Homo sapiens: one gene and its partners. The protein of the gene in region 3 purifies or fractionates together with the protein of the main gene of each other region. This does not show direct contact. Each region holds a gene or a part of one and is shown on either strand. Other genes may lie near its edges. The genes, in order: NDUFAF4, MTX2 and CHCHD3.

What was found.
Region 1: the proteins of CHCHD3 (region 3) and NDUFAF4 purify together in Homo sapiens (co-immunoprecipitation; one large-scale study listed by IntAct). This does not show direct contact.
Region 2: the proteins of CHCHD3 (region 3) and MTX2 purify together in Homo sapiens (affinity purification with mass spectrometry; 3 studies listed by BioGRID and IntAct, with this or other methods). This does not show direct contact.

What each region holds. Positions count from the first base shown.
Region 1 is NC_000006.12:96,888,755-96,891,951, forward strand, and holds the end of NDUFAF4 (NADH dehydrogenase [ubiquinone] 1 alpha subcomplex assembly factor 4), read right to left. Parts: intron 2,638-3,197; coding exon 2,350-2,637; 3' UTR 561-2,349; downstream 1-560. UniProt on the Homo sapiens protein: Involved in the assembly of mitochondrial NADH:ubiquinone oxidoreductase complex (complex I). May be involved in cell proliferation and survival of hormone-dependent tumor cells. May be a regulator of breast tumor cell invasion.
Region 2 is NC_000002.12:176,331,939-176,335,596, forward strand, and holds part of MTX2 (metaxin-2), read left to right. Parts: intron 1-3,658. UniProt on the Homo sapiens protein: Involved in transport of proteins into the mitochondrion.
Region 3 is NC_000007.14:132,788,503-132,792,160, reverse strand, and holds part of CHCHD3 (MICOS complex subunit MIC19), read left to right. Parts: intron 1-3,658. UniProt on the Homo sapiens protein: Component of the MICOS complex, a large protein complex of the mitochondrial inner membrane that plays crucial roles in the maintenance of crista junctions, inner membrane architecture, and formation of contact sites to the outer membrane.

The DNA of each region.
Region 1 (3,197 bases), on a different chromosome or scaffold from region 3:
GCACTGGTCATAGATATTTTTTAAACACCCGTGATCCAGAATCCATGAACCCAGGCGTCTCCCAGACTTACACCAGCCTCTCACAGCAGACATCTGTATTTTCCCAGAATTCTACAGATGATTCTCATATACGGTGAGCATTGAGTAGTCCTGTCCTCATATGCCTCAGGCACTTTGCATGACATCTCATTAATTCTCATAATCTTACAAAGGCAACATAGCGTATCAGTTAGAAGCACAAGGTTCTGAAAATAACCTAACAGGACTAAATCCAGGCTTCAACACTTACTAAGTAATCTTTGAAGTTACTGAAGCTCTCTATGCTTCTAAAATATGGCTACTTATCCTTGTACCTATGGTAAATATTAAGCAAGTTAATACACGTAAAGCACTTCAATCAGACCCTAGTACAGTAATTACTTTTAAAATGTTAGATGGCATGGCTAGTGGTGATCCTGAGATCTAAACTGTTTTCTGAATCTAAATTCCATGCACTTTCTGACATCACTGCTACCAAGTGCTCTCCTGTATATAATAAAACGCAGTATAGGACTGATGAATGGTATGGGAAGAAGTTCTTTATTTTATCATGTGACACCACATAACAGATGCCTAACCACACAATGTAGATATGAATAAAGAAGATGGCTCAGAAGAGTGTACTAGTATTTGTGACTCAGCTAGTGACCATTATGATAAAAAGAATAAAGTTTTGACTTATTTACAGTTTTAAAATGCATTTTATATTGAGTAGTTATTTCATGTTTTCTTAAAACAATTATTGTATTGAACTAAAAATAAACTAGGTAGTTTGTTCACATAACAAATCTACATTCAAAGTCATGCTTACAAATTTTCCACTTAGTCCATTTTTCTGTTCTCAGCATTACTACAAATGCCTCATTCCGTCATCACATTGAATTCTTCAACATCCTCTATATCATTTCCAGGGGCATCTCTGGGAAGTAGTGATGCCTATCTTCCCTCGGAAGCACTAATAACCCTAATATACCCACAATTCACACCTTTTCCCTTCTTTGAGGTGTGCTGCTTTTTGGCAAGACAGAAAAAACACACTACTAGGATTTGAAAAACTAAATTCTGGGCCTGTTTAAGTCATAAACTACAGAATCTTCGGTCATATATTCTCCCCAGGCACTTGTTTCTCCACCGCAAAAAATAATTCCTATTTGCTTGGTCCTTTGTAGTCCTTTATTATTTATCTTCATGATAACCCTTACATTTAGGGTAGCATTATGCTTATTTTATAGAAGAAACTCAATCTCCAAGAAGATATAGTCTCCCAAAGATCCCCCAAGTAGTAATATATTAGGCAGAGCTAAACTCACACACTCACTCAAGATCCTAGTACTGGTACATGCTATGCTAATTAAATTTGCTAAAATGGATGAAATGGCAATTTCTCAGGTCCCTTCCAATGATCCTGTTCTCTGCTTCTACTTGCTATCTTTTTCTCTTCTCTCAACTAGCATTAACATCCGAAACTATATGTAATCACCAAATTTCATCTACCATGGTTTTTTAATTATTCTTTAAATTTTTCTCTATTTCCACATTAAATCCAGAGAAATGTTACTTTTTTGAAAGTTTCTGCTTCCTGCCTCTCTGAAGGCCATGGGACTTAACTATTTGTCAAAGCAGAAATTCCCATGGGACTTACCTATCTGTCAAAGCAGAAATTCCCAACATTTTGTAAACACCACTAATTACTTTTTATAACTGTAAAGACAATTATTCCATACTTAAAACCAATTCAAAATAAAATAAATCCTCAATACTTCTTATTCCCTGGAGTAGTAATTTTAATTAGATTCTATTGATTCATTTTCTCCTGTGTGCCTTTATTTGGGAACTACTGTTAGTCTACCCTGCTATCGAGTCTCTTTCCCTAACGAGAAAATGTCAGTCTTAAGGGTCAGGAAAGCTTTTACTTTCACTATCGCATGAGAAGAATGAACTAAACACCTAACTTGGAAAGTAAAACTCAGTTGAGGGATTCAGGACATTTCCCAAGGGGTAATATGACCAATTTAAAAGTTGGTATATGTGCCTAAAATAACAAATTAACTCTTTCACCATAATAAAGGTACAGATGTGCTCAGTCATGCTGACATGCACTTATGAAATATGCCTAAACCAAATTAAAATAAAACAAAAGATATTCTATGGCAATCTTGAAAAGTCAGGGAGCTCAATAAATATTAAGAGTATGCCCTCACAATGAGAGCATTAAATATTTGGTAATTAACATAATTTATTACGCAAAAAATGAGAAAATATACAGCAGGAGGGATGAGGAGTACACATAGGAAATTTCTGTGATTTTCTTCATTTTGATCGTATTGCTTTCTTGTCTTCAGGAGGGAAGATTTCGACTTCAAAAGTAACAAAATATTTAAGAAGAGAATTCACATCTTTCTGTTCTAACTGGTATTCCTGCATTATTTTCTCAGCAGTCCAGGTTTCTGGGAAAAGCTTATGATTATTGAGAAGTGTCAATGCTTCTACAATGGAAATTTTGCCTTTGGGAATGCTCTTAATATTTATCATATCAAAATGATGGTCTTTCGGCAATCTGAATTCCTTCGGCTCTTGACATGTTTCAGCAGCTTTTACCTAGTATCAAAAAAAAAAGGTTTTAGGATGAGAGAAAAGATTTGACATCTACTTTCATACTTCTCAAATCTACACTATTCCTCTTCAAATAACAACTAATATGGTTTGGATCTGTGTCCCCACCCAAATCTCATGTCACCAAATTGTAGTCCCCAAAGTTGGACGTAGGGCATGGTGGAAAGTGACTAGATCATGGGAGTGGATTTCCCTCTTTGGTGCTATTCTCGTGATAGAGTTCTCACCAGATATGGTTGTTTAAAAGTGTGTAGCACCTCCCCCACACCCCGCTTCTGCTTGCTCTGGCAATATAAGCCGTGCCTGCTTCCCATTCCACCATGATTATAAGTTTCCTGAGGCCTCCCCAGAAGCAGAAGCTGCTATCCTTCCTGTATGGCCTGCAGAATCGTGAGCCAATTAAACATCTTTTCTTTATAAACTACCCAGTCTCATGTATTTCTTTACATCAGTGCAAGAATGGATTAACACAAATTCTATATACGATTTTCCAAACTTCATTTTCTTATTATAATGAGCCATAGTTTAATAGTACTTTTGCCACA
Region 2 (3,658 bases), on a different chromosome or scaffold from region 3:
CTTCTCAGTTAAACTCATTGTCATTGTGTTAGTAACCAGAGTTTGGCATGTGACTCAGTGGAAATATCAAGATATCATTTTTCTTCATAAGGGCACAATTACATTTACACTTGTGATGAAAACTTCTAACTTAGAACAGTTCAAACACCAAAGCCTTGCTTTTGAGGAACTATTTAATTGATATTATGATGTAGAGTTTTGACATAATTTTCCTTTGCGTGATACTTAGATAAACATTTTCCCTAAAAATAAGATTAAAGATAGAAGAGATTTGATTTTTAATTTTATTCGATCATTTAATTAATACTAAAATGCAAATAAAGTACATTTAGAAAAAAGTAACTGGTATTTCACTTCCTTGTGCCAACATTTTTCTCATTCCTTTATCTGTAGCAGGAGTCATTACTTTGTGAGATACTATGTTGAATAGAGCTGTGGCCTAAGTCAGGTATTATACTGCAAGTCAGAGGGTCTGAATTCTATTCTTGGCTCTGACATATCTCTAAGTTACTCTAATTTCTCTATGTGTATGCCAGTCCTAAAATTAGAATTAACCCCCTACAATTAGAATTAATCCCCTAAAATTAGAATTAACTTTCCTTCTAGCTCAACTACTGGGGATGTTGGGAGGACTCGTGAAAGAAACCAAATACCGTTACTTGATGAGAGAAAAGGAAAAGGGTAGTTAAGGGAGATCTCACAGAAAGAATAATAATTGGGAAAAGAGGCCAAAAAGCAAGGGGCTTGATTTACAAAACTTGGGTGACAGCCCTAAAGATAAGTGATTAGGATGTAAAGAAAAGATAACGTAGATTATTTCTAGTACTATAAAGAGATGAAAAGTTAATGGGAAAGAACAATTAGGAAACACTCAGACAAAATTAATGCTTTTGAAAGCATTAATATAGATGATACTATGAAGGTATCAGAGAGAAATAAATGTGAAATAATGAATAAGCAAAGCAAAAAATATGAGTGCCAGAAAAATCTTAAATGGAAAATGTTAGGAAAATGTTGAATTTTACTGAGTGCCAGAAAAATCTTAAATGGAAAATGTTATGAAAACGTTGAATTTTACTGTTTTTGTTTTGATATTCAAATGAAAAAATAGTAGATAACCAACAGGAATGTGGAAAGAATAATAATGTAAGAAGGCATCAAATTTCTTAGGACTTTAAAAATATATTTGTCACCCTGGAATATTTTTCTAATAAAAAGTCTATAAAGATAAATGCAATAATATATGAAACATCTTAGAGCTCATAGGAGGGGAATTGCTATCTATATTTGAATTATAATCACAAACTATTTGGTAAGCAGAAGGGTAGAAAGTTGTGTTTTCTCTTCACGTGATATAGCAAGATAATTAAAATTGGAGGTATATGAAGATCTTGACTTGATTAAATAGTTCAGTAGAAATACTGGATAAAATATGTTACTTGTCTTTTTGTTAAGTCAGGTTTATTGATGTGTAATTTACATCTAGTAAAATTGGCACTTTTATGCGTGTAGTTCTATGAATTTTAACAAAGGCATACAGTTGTGTAACTGTCACCTATCAACTAAAATATTATTTGTACTTCTTAAAAAGACTTGTTGGAATCAGTAATTTATATATGTCAGAGTCAGTGTAAGGAGTTGCTCAAATTTGGAAAAATTACAAAAAATATGCTTTAAAGGTTAGTGTGTGTGGATATATACAGTCATGCCCTGTATGGCAACCTTTCAGTCTGTGATGGACCAAATATATGATGATGGTCCCTTGAGATTGTAATATATTTTTACTTACCTTTTCTGTGTTTAGATATGTTTAAATACACAAGTATTTGTGTACCATAAATACACATTATCATTGTGTTACAGTTGCCTACAGTATTCTGTTTGGCAATGTGCTGTATAGGTTTGTAGCCTATTAGCAATAGGGTGTACCATATACTCTAGGTGTATAGCACCATCTAGGTTTGTGTAAGTAGACTCTATGATGTTCACACAGTGAGAAAATTGCCAAACAGTGCATTTCTCAGAATGTATTCCTGTTAAGCAACACACAACTGTATGTGCTTTGGTTTAATCTGTTGAATTCTACTTCTGTTGATGTTCTAAAGTAACTTGCCACAAAGTTGCTGTCTTTATGTAAAATCAGATCAGTTTTTATATGCTCATGCCCATATATAATTCAGTACCTCTGGAGTTATGTGGATATATATTTGCAACAAACCACTTCAGGGGTACTTCTGGAGCACTCTCATTTGAGCATACATTGATAGTTGAACTCTTTCAGAGCCTTCATTTATTAATAAAGGGTGCCCATCTATACTACTGGAAGTTGCATCAGAGAATATATGCACCTTTTTTAGGCTCTAGTACAAGAAGTATAGGGTAGCTGGCACTAAACAAGGATTAGGAAAATAAGTTCTAAATTGGTAAGATAAGATGTACCTCTTAAGAAATATGTTTAAGGATGTGGAAGAATTGGTGTTTGTATTATTCTCACCAAGTGCCTCAGCTCAGCTCCCCATTTATCCACTCTACATCCTTGGTTTTTTGCAGGGATCTATTCATTATTGGTTCATTCCTGTGATGATAAGATTATGGTGCTGTTGAGTCTAAGGACCCTTGAGATTTTTTTTTTTAAAACTATACTGTTGGCTACCCATTTAAACATGGCCATAGATTGCACATTTGACTTTGATTAACACTTCATGAATGTCAAAAGAGTGGAAGGCTTTCAAAGAATGTAAGTTACTACTATTGAGAAAATTAAATATTCCACACATCTTAGGATGCTTTCTTTTTTAATTCATGTATTTATTCGGCAAGTGCTACTTCAGTTCCTTAGATACTGTGCTAAGAACTGGGAATATAAAGATATATACAGCATTGCCTTTGAAGAGCTTGGAGTGTAGTGAGGGAAACAGTTAAGTGAACACAGTTATAATATGGTATGAGAAGTGTGTCACCTTTTTATTGGTTCATTCAACACAAATTTATTGCACAATTCCTGCTTTGTGCAAGGAATTGTTCTAGGTATTGGGGTTACAGCAGGAACCAAGTAGGTGAGGTCCTTTCTCTACAGGACTTTCTGGTAGAGGAGATGCACAATAAGCAAAAAAAAAATTATATGGTATTAATTATCAAATGTAGAATTAAAAAAGGACCACATGATAAGGAGTGACTACATGTCCACTTTAATTTGAGTGGTCTGAGGAGACTTTAAGATGTGCCATTTAAACCTTATTCTAAAAAATAAGGAGCCAGTGTGAAGTCAGAGGAAGAGTATTTTAGGCAGCAGGAATAGTTATAGTCAAGGTTCCCTAATTGGCTTGAGTTTGTTACGTTCAAATGCAAGAAACAAGGCCAGTTTGGGTTGTATGCTATGAATGGTAGGATATGAGGCTAAAGAGGCAGGCAGAGGCCAGATTATCAAGGCTCTGTGTGCTTAGTGTAAGGAGTTTGGCATTTTAGTATAAGTAGAACAGAAATCCATTAGAATATTTTGTGCTTGGAGTTGGTATGATCTGCTGACATTAGTCATTCTGACCATGGTATGGAGAATGAGTAGAAGCAGTAAGACACTTTAGGAGGCTATCTCAGTGGTCTAGGTGACAGATGATGGTAGGTTACACTGTGAAATCATAATGAAGAATAAGTGGTGGCA
Region 3 (3,658 bases):
CCTGACAACCAAGGGCAAACTGGGACCAGAGGCAAGGACCAACCCCAGGAGATGCCCAAGGGACAGAGGTCAGTGTGGGACCTGCAGTTAGATGATGAGTCTGTCAGGGGTCCCCCAAACCATAGCAGAAGTTTCAGTCAGTAAGCAGGCAGTGGGACAGTAGCCACGCAAACAGTTAGTTCAGCTCACAATAAGGACGTCTTGTAAATGAGACAGCCCCACCTCAGACCTACATGCTTCCTGCTGATCTCTTTGGAGAGATCAGAAAGGAACCTGGCCACAGTGAGGAACTTGGGGTCAGGACCCAGTAAATGAGGCTAGATCCTAATGTGACAGCTCTCCAACTTAAGGCTAGTGCACCCCGTTGTCTCGTTTCTAAAATATCATTGACATCTCCAGTATTTGGTTGGCTTCCTAAGTCAAAGCCTCAAGATCAGTGCATATGGAGGAATTTGCCCTGGCACAATTTCTGTCCGCCTTCTGAAGGACAATTTCATCTCCCCGGTGAACTGTATTTATATTAGACCAGGATTCTGCTCCTAAGTCTGTGACATATTTTGAGTATGAAGGGGTCCTGAAAACATAGTAGTAGCTTTTGCTTAAAAATCAAGGTTCTTGAAAGAAAAACCTATTGCCAGAGCAAGCTGTATGTTATCATTGTTTTCAGATGAACTCTACATTAGATGCAAATGATTTAATAGACTTATAGGCTGTTGGAGCTAAAAGGACCCTAGAGATCATATAACCCAACCTCATTTTTTTCATGTGCAAAATTAGCTTCCAGAGAATTTAAATGATCTGTAGAAGGGCAGAACCCAGACCAAACAGCCCACTCTTAAATTCAAAACCAGGGTATTTTTCCTGTCGTGTCAGATCTCAGATGTGGGTGAGCATCAGAATCCCCTGAGGGGTTTGCTTAAAATGTACCCACCCAATCCCCATCCCTGGAGATTCTGATTCAGAAGGTCTGGGGTGAGGCCTGGGCATCTGAACTTTGACCAAATTTCCCAGGAGACTCTGTACCCAAAGTTTGAAAACCATTGCTCTTAGAGCCCATTGGCCTGAATTGCATTAAAGGTCTTTGACCTTTCAGAGGTCCTGCCAAGTCCTTGTTTTCCATCTTTTGGGAGATGGGGAGCTATCACTCCCTATAGGTCAAAGCTACCTGGCAGAGGTCTCATCAGACCAACCCTAGGAATGAATCTTTAGCCTTAAGAACAAATTGGAAGATGATGTGGGAATCAGATGGAAGCCTTGAAAAGAGATCCCCTTCCCCTCTTCTCTTGCTCCCATTGAAACAGTAGGTGACCCCAGTCCCCTGGCTAGCTCACAGCTGTGACCAGACCCTCCCTTGGTTCTACTGCTCCCAGTCACCCTGCTTCTCTCCCCGACCCACATCAGGGTCCCCCCGATGTACACGGTGGCCACTTTCAGAGAGCACGAAGATAATCAAGAAGGTTAACTTTCTGGGAAGCCCCCCAGGAGCATGTTTTTATTGTGTTCGAAAGCTGCTTTATCATTATCGCTTGATGACATTTATTAATTGCCCAGCTGGGATGCTGGTCACAGGGTGACTGACACGTGGGTATTTCATAATAGATTTCCCATTTTTTTGGTAGGGCAGCCCTTTGAATTTAGAGTCAGATCAAAGCAAACAAAATTCCAAACTTTAAATTTCCTATCCCAACCTCTTCCATCATAGGAATCCTTTTCTAAACCACTTTCTGAGAGTAATCGTTGCTTCGTGACATTTTCTCTTTTTTTAAATCTGAGTTTAATAGAAGAAATACTACCATGGTAATAGATTTTCATTTTTCTTAATAGGTATTTCTTTTCCCATGGTCATCCTTCAATTAGAACTGCAGTATGTTAGTGTTTTGTCTGTTATTGCAGCCAGCTGTATAAACAGTTAATTACTTGTAACTTAATTTGAATATTATACAGAGCATTTGTCATAGAAGATATAAAACAAGATCCAGGCAGAAAAAAGTTAACTTCTATTTCCTCCAAAGCAGGAGGAACAAAGAACAAACAGCTCTTGCTGCAGGGGAATAGACACATATTGAAAACAAAATAAGTGATCTAATCAGATTTCCAGGTAGTGAAGAACAGTACTTGGTGCACAGGCAAAACTCGCTTTGTGCTTCCCATAAATTCAATTTATAGATGACTTTTCCTTCCTGTCTTATGCACAGTCTTCTCATTCTGGCTTTTTCCTCATCGAAGCTCCAGTGTCTCCCACTCCCCACTTTTCCTGACCCTCCTTAGTAAAACTCGTGTCTTAAGACCAGGTCTGTGCCAGGACACATCTCCAGTTTCATTTTTCCTTGGTTAGGTAGACCTTCCTGCTTCTCTACCCAGCTTTATGAGGCCTGAAGTCTTGGTGAGGCGCTGGGTAAGTTCATCCAGAGACAAGCACCCTGAGTGGTATCTTAAAAAACAAACCGCTTTTCTTCTCTTCATGATGATTGGTTAGCAACCCAGGGTTGCCATCATTTCTCTTAAATTATCAACACAACCAGTAGCTGGCATGCTGCTATGATAGTCAACCCCTCCAAGAAAGCTGTGATTCAAAAATCAGTTGATGAGATTACTGCTTAACAGAAATATTTGAGGCAAGCGGTTAGGATGGTTAGTAAGGTTTTAATAAGCGGAAATGACACGCAATCTCAGGTCTCCAGGGGCGCTGTTCTTATTTGTGAGCTGCCGGTTGTTCTTCAGTGGCTGGAATGAGAAAAAGACTTGGGAAAAGAGCAGTGTTCATGCCTGAACCACTCTCTTCTTTTGGTGATTTACCCAGCTGTTTATAAAAGGAGTTTCTGCAGGCCCAGATACGTGAATGATGAGCAAAAGCAAGGAATTTCTTTCTCCACATTAAGATTAAGTGTTAGCAGTTCCTTAAATGAAGGAAGCAATTTTTTATAACTTGCAAAGCTTCTCCCTCATTCTTTAGGGAATTTCCTATGTTAATTTATGCAGTGTTAAATTTATGCAGCGTTGAAATTCAGCCCAACAGCAGTACTTACGGAACCAATACAGAGACAGTAGAACCTATAAGGTGAAAGCTGAATAACACAGACCCCACCAGACTACGGATCCCTCCAGCCAAAAGCCCTGAGTTCTGAGTTGGAGCAGGTTTTGTCGCATAGCTGGAATATAATAATAACCCAAAATGTTTGACAGATGAATTCATCTTTTTTAAAAATCCAGCCTGCCATTGTGTTTGTTAATTTCCCTGATAGAATTGAGATGGTTTTGTACCACCCCTGCCACCCTTTGGTAGCAAGTGAGTGCAGTTTGACAAAATGTTTATAGATCAGCCCTGGTGCTTTTCTGTGGTGGTCCCACATGTCTTCAAGGAGTCACCACAAATCAGCTGAACCACTGTGCTATCTTGGAGGATTAGAATTTTAATACATGTAACGGTATTTTGTGAATGTGGCTAAAGGGGTTATTAAAATGTTACTTCTTTTAGTGTCTTTATGTGAGACTGGCCTGCTCATCCTCAGACCAGCCAGGCCCCATCTTGTCTCTTTCTGAAAGAGAGCCTAACATTCTTAGCATGATATGATTTGGCTGAAAAATTACCCATCTATATTTGGTTGAGGTTGCAGAGAGAATAGTAAAAACAATCTCTAGACTCGTGAAAACACTCTTT